2 separate regions of the Homo sapiens genome follow, and region 2 is linked to region 1. Evidence: fine-mapped expression QTL. A gene starts in region 1. The other region holds a variant in brackets. All regions are shown on one strand. Distances are from middle to middle.

The links. PIP is the estimated chance that this variant, and not a neighbour inherited with it, causes the effect.
Region 2: its variant is fine-mapped to the expression of CLINT1 in iPS cells (HipSci, PIP 0.95).

The regions. Positions count from the first base shown.
Region 1 is chr5:157,857,947-157,860,861 of GRCh38, forward strand. It overlaps CLINT1 (clathrin interactor 1), which reads right to left and starts at 1,199. Exons shown (of 12, transcript NM_014666.4): 1 at 984-1,199. The coding sequence starts at 1,024. RefSeq lists enhancers at 829-1,410, 1,248-1,487.
Region 2 is chr5:157,591,964-157,594,878 of GRCh38, forward strand. No RefSeq gene overlaps it. Among named protein-coding and RNA genes, the nearest start is that of ADAM19, 18 kb to the left of the region's middle. RefSeq lists a silencer at 2,440-2,539. The variant CA/C (reference allele first, on the strand shown) is at 1,471.

The DNA of each region.
Region 1 (2,915 bases):
ATTGCATAATCATTAAAGCCCCAAAGGAAGAGGACTGCTTAAATTCTTAAACTTTATTTCCTGCTGGCCTAGAAGACCTTACTTAACCACTGTTATACCTGATATACTCATTTTAAAAGTTAAGGTTTTCCTTGTGCAAGTAAGAGACTAAAGTTATTTCAGTCTTAAAGGAAATCAACTACGTACTGGTCGTTTTACCTGCTTTTAAAAGCAGATCAACAGGATATAAACCTGGGTTGTTTTTTTCCTTAAGAGGACATTTCTTAATGACCTCTTAATTTAATCGAATGGAACAAGTAGCACACCAAAAATGATGTGTAGTGGAAAAAGAAACAGAAGAAAAAATCGCAAGAAGTCATATAGTGATCTACTTTCACTAGTGTTAGAAAAGCAAAGGATGAGTGTCTTCTTGAGTAACTTCAGGCTGACCACAATAGCCACTTGTTACACTACTACCACCCACTCCAACACTTCAGGTTCATTAGGAATTAAGAGGAGGCAAGGAAGATAAAAGACACACCCCAACCAGGTCTAAGGTCTCTCCGTACTACACCTTGAGGGACACAGGGAACCAGTGCATTGTGCCCCCCACCCCCAAACCTTCCCTGCTCCCCAGGAGGCAAAGCCCACGGCCTGGGGCCAAGACAGTCCTCCGGCCAGGGCAGTGACCCAGCGCCAAACAACCCGCCCCTTATGACCAAAGCGTCGGCACCCAGGGGTTGGAATAGGGGAAGGGACGGGAAGGCCTGGAAAGGAGAGAAGGGTGGCCAAGAGGATGTTTTTTTTTAAAACGAGGGAGGGTCCCTCCCCAGCCTCGCCAGCGGGGATGAGGCCCGGGGCCGGGAAGGAGCGGGCCGCCGCCATGATGGGGCTGGCAGAGCCAGGGGGCGTGACGTGGGCAACCCCTAGCCCAAGGCCAGCTCCTTCTCCCCCTCCCCCCTCCCCCACGTGGGCCTCGGCCACAACTGCCCCCCGATACTCACGCTTTGTCCACCAGCTCGCGCACCTTCCACATGTTCAACATCGTGCCCCGCGCGGGACGGTCCGCCGCCTCCCTCTCCTGCTCCCCACGGACCCCGGAACACTTCCGTACCGGGGCAGTTCCAGGCCGGGGTCACCGCCGCCCGCCGCCTCGAACTCCCCCAGTCAGCTCCTTCCTTTGCCACAGCAGCGGCGCCGCCGGTGACACGTCGAGACGCGGCAGCACAGGCGCTGCGTGGAGCGGAAGTGTCCGACTTTCCGCCGCTGCGCGCGGGGCACGCCGGGACTTGTAGTTTTCCCTGAGTGCCGAGCTCGGCCGGTTGAGTTGGGAGAGCTGAGAGGTTGAGTTGGGAGAGCTGAGAGGAGTTGGGATGGTTTCTCTTAAGCTTTCCCAGTCCCCGGCCCCAGACCTACCGAGCCAGAAATTTTGGAGGTGGGGCCCAGCGATCTGTGCTTTTACAAATCCTCTAGGTGATTCTGATCACGCTCAAGTTTCAGAACCACTGGTGCAGGGTCTAGTCACACTCAAACACTTTTCAAATGTAAGGCAGTATTACTATGTTATTAGTAATGATTATACAGAAGTATGATTGGCATACGCATTCCTCATCGACAGACACATCGCTGTATTTATTTCCCAATGCCCAAGTACACTTAGATCTCTAGGCCTTAGTTTCCACCCCTGTAAAATTGAAGAACTTGTATTCTAAATCCTTTTCCGCTCTAATTCTATGATACAATGTTTTATATTTAGACAACTACCTGAAATCCTTGTTAAATGCTTTACTATAAACCTCAGAAACTCAGTTCACACTCCACGGGAAACTAAAAAGCCAACATTATATATACACGCACACATACACATACATATGACAGGTTTGTGTTTTTTAAGGATAAATATGCACATTGCTTCCATTGCTTTGTTGCAATGGTTGTCATCACTTCCTTCTCTACTTACTCATTTTTATCAATGCTCATGTTAAAGCTACAAGCAACCTTAAGTTTCATTTGATCCATCTGCTGAAATTTTACAGTTCTTTTCATTCTACAAATATTTATTGAGCATCTTGTATGTTCCAGAAGTGGGGAATATAGTTAAAGACCCAGCTCTCTTGGAATTCAAACGTAATTGGAAGAAACATATAATAATCAAGGAAACATTTAAGATAATTGCATATAGTGTAATTGCTTAGCGGGTTCTTTCTGCCCACTTTACAGATAAAGTCAATTCACTGCGACCAAGTCATTGCAGTGAAGAGTTTGACATGAGGCTGGCCATGCCACTTGAGAGACAGAGTTATTACTCAAATCAATCTTCCTGAACATTTGGAAGCTAGAGTTTTTCAAAGATAGTTTGGTGAGCAGAGGGTTAGGGCATGGGTGCTGCTGATTGGTTAGGGATGCAATCAGAGGAGTATGGAAAATGGTTCTCCTTTGCTGAATCGGCTTCTTGATGGAGGGCCAGCAGAGGAGTGGCTGGTCTGGGTGGGGTCATCCGTTTGTCAGAAATGCAAAAGCCTGAAAAGACGTCTTAAAAGGCCAATCTTAGGTTCTACAATAGTTCATTACAGGCCAGGCACAGTGGCTCACGCCTGTTATCCCAGCATTTTGGGAGGCTGGGAGGCCAAGGCAGGAGGATCACTTGAGCCCAGGAGTTTGAGACCAGCCTGGGCAGCAAAGTGAGATCCCCCTGCCAGCCCAGTCTTTAAAAAAAAAAAAAAAAAAAAAAAAAAAGCCAGGCGTTGGGGCACACTCTTGTGAGGCCAGCTACTTAGGAGGTTGAAATGGAAGGATCCCTCGAAAGGATCAAATAAAGACTCCAATTCACAAAGAAGTGAAATTGATGGTTGCTAGTCATGAAGCTAGGTAACAATAATCCCAAATAAACAACCTCGGACCCTGGTCCCTCAAGTGAAACCACCTCTTTTCTATTT
Region 2 (2,915 bases), 270 kb before region 1:
TTTGGATCTGTGGTTTGGTGTCTGGCATTAATCTAGGGAAATTCACTATTGCTTCTGCTCCTTTCTCTTTTTCTTCTCCTTCTGGTATTTTCATTGTGTGTATCTGTACCTTTTGTACTTGTCTCACAATTACTGGGTATTCTGTTTTATTTTTTCAGTCTTTTCTTCTCTTTGTTATTCAGTTTTGCAAATTTCTATTCTCACATCCTCAGGCTCAGAGGTTTTTTTCTTAGCCATGTTCAGTCTACTCATGAGCCCATCATAGATTCTTCATTTCTGTAACAGTGATTTTAATCTCTAACATTTCTTTTTAATTCTTAGAATTCCCTCCTCTCTGTTTACATTATCTATCTGTTCTTGCATGTTGTCTCTTTTTCCATTAAAGCCCTCAGCATATTAATCATATTTAAAATGTTTTTCAGTTGGTTGGGCATGGTGGCTCATGCCTGTAATCCCAGCACTTTGGGAGGCCAAGGCAGATGGATCATCTAAGGTCAGGAGTTAAGACCAGCCTGGCCAACATGGTAAAGCCCTGTCTCTGCTAAAAATAACAAAAATTAGCGGAGTCTTTAGCAGTTTGTCAATTACAGTTCCAGTTTTCTTCCCCCAGCACCTCCCAGGAGGTTCCTGCTGGTGGGTTTCTGCTCTGATGTTATGATACTCTGTATCTATCTGTTTCTCCAATTTTGTGGGCAGCAGCTTGCCATATAACCTCACTTCTCCACTGGACATGAGAAGAGCTGATTTTTCAGTTCATCAAGCTTTTTACTTGTTGTTACGACCGAGTGGTGACTTCTAAGCTCCTTTCATGCAGGACTAGAAACCGGAAGTCAAATATTTTTAATAGATAATGATGCAAAATGTATCATAGGAGCCAGCTTCCTGCAGCTGTTTCCCCTCCTCAGCTAGCAGCCACCCTTCCCTAGGTGCTTTTTCCCCTTTCTAGATAAAGCCCTGGTGGGATTTAGAGGTTACACCAACCTTTTGCAGACATTTCACTCCATTATCTTCTTTGATCCATTCAAAAAGCCATGTGAACTGGGTGTTAGGATCCCATTTCACAGAAGAGAAAATTGGCATTTTAGGGGTAAACAACTTCCCCAAGGTCACACAGCCAGGACACAATTCCAAGAGGGAAAAGGAGGAAAAAAAGATAGAACCCTAGCATGGGAGTTTTCTCCCACGGAGATGACGTGGGGATACAGATTTCAGAGCAACAACCTTTTGCATTTATAGCCACACCCAAAGGACATCTGGGTCCATGAATTTTTCATTCAGCTCTATGCAAAGCGCTATGACTTGCCCTGGAAACAGAGGTTCCTGGGTAAGAGCCCCTGCCTTCTAGAGCCTCACTAGCCCAAGTGTGGTCCACAGACCAGCAGCATCAGCAGAACCTGGAGCCTATTAGAAATGCAGACTGTCAGTTCCCACCCAGACCTCTTGAATCAGAAGCTGCATTTTAATAAGATC[CA/C]AAAAAAAAAAAAAAAAAAAAACCCAAGGTGATTTGGCTGCTACTTAAAGTCTGAAAAGCATTGCTAGGAGACAGTCCAAACTTGATTTTACATATGGTAAGAGAAAACAAGTGTTTTCCTGGAACGGAAGCTAAGGATTGGAAAAGCCCAGAAAAAGAGAGATTGGATATAAACAAGGATCGTAGGAGGCTTCATGAAGGAGGGGTTTTGAAGTTGAGCCTTGAAGCAGAAAAGTGCATATGAACAAAAGTACAGAGATGGGAAGTGTTTAGTGTTTGGGGAAAGGCAAATGGCCTCATGTGACAAGAGGGAGAGAGCGGGAGGTGAAATTAAGAATAATAGGAGCAAATGGTCAAGGATGTTTTCTGTATGGATAATAAGGCAGCTGGAATCCTCTTTGTGAGAGGTCATGAGCTGGTGACCTGTGGGCCAACACAGTGTTGTAAAAATAATTTGGATTGTAGTTGTGTCCAAAATATTTTCAAAATGTTAAAAATTTAATTATCATAAAAATACATAGTGAGCATTTTCCAGGTTTTAATTAACTAATCAGAGAACCAGCAAGATCACCAAGGTGGTTCAAAAAAGGACAGGAAAAACTAGACAAAAGGAACTCTAAAATAAGATTGAGATCCAAACTGGTTAATAACCTACAGGGCAATAAAACTACATTCTTTGGGGTTATCTTCTCTACCAGACGATAATCGTTTACAGCTTTACTGGACAAAAAAAAAAAAAAATCATTGACAATTTATTCGTTTTCTGTAATTTAACATCCAACTTTACAGAGTTATAAAATGTCAGACCCCTAATTAATCACAAACAGTAAACAGCAGGTGAAACAATCTTGTGTTTCCCTGGAGTTAGACAATGCCCTGAACAGAAAAGACAGTGAGTGGTTAAGGGCAGTGATTCTCAAACCTAAGCTTAAAGCAAAATTCCCTGAAGGGCTCATTACAACACAGAATGCTGATCTCCAACCTCAGAGTTTCTGATTTAGTACATCTGGGGCAGACTGATGATTTGTTCTCAGTTGATGCAGATGCTATTTACCAGGGAAAACCCTTTGAGAACCACTGATCTTAGATGCCACTGAATGAAAGAAACTGCAGTCATTCTTTTGCCTCATTTCCAAATTTTGGATATTTTTTCTGAACAGTTGCCAAATGTTCAAAAATCAGAGAAAAAAAATTCCTGATTGTGGCTCTTATGAAAAATTAGAAAGTCAGACAATAGTAAGTCTAAATTCTCCCGTGGTGACAATTGCTTAAAGCTCAATATCAGTTGCTCCTTTTTTTTTTCACTAACCCTAACCTACATCACTCATTTATTTTGCTGGCATTTGATTTTGATATCCCTGCAAAACATGGTGGAAACACAATGCAGAATTTGGAGGAGGAACATGAGTGCAGCTGGTTAACACCTATCTCTGTATCACATCTG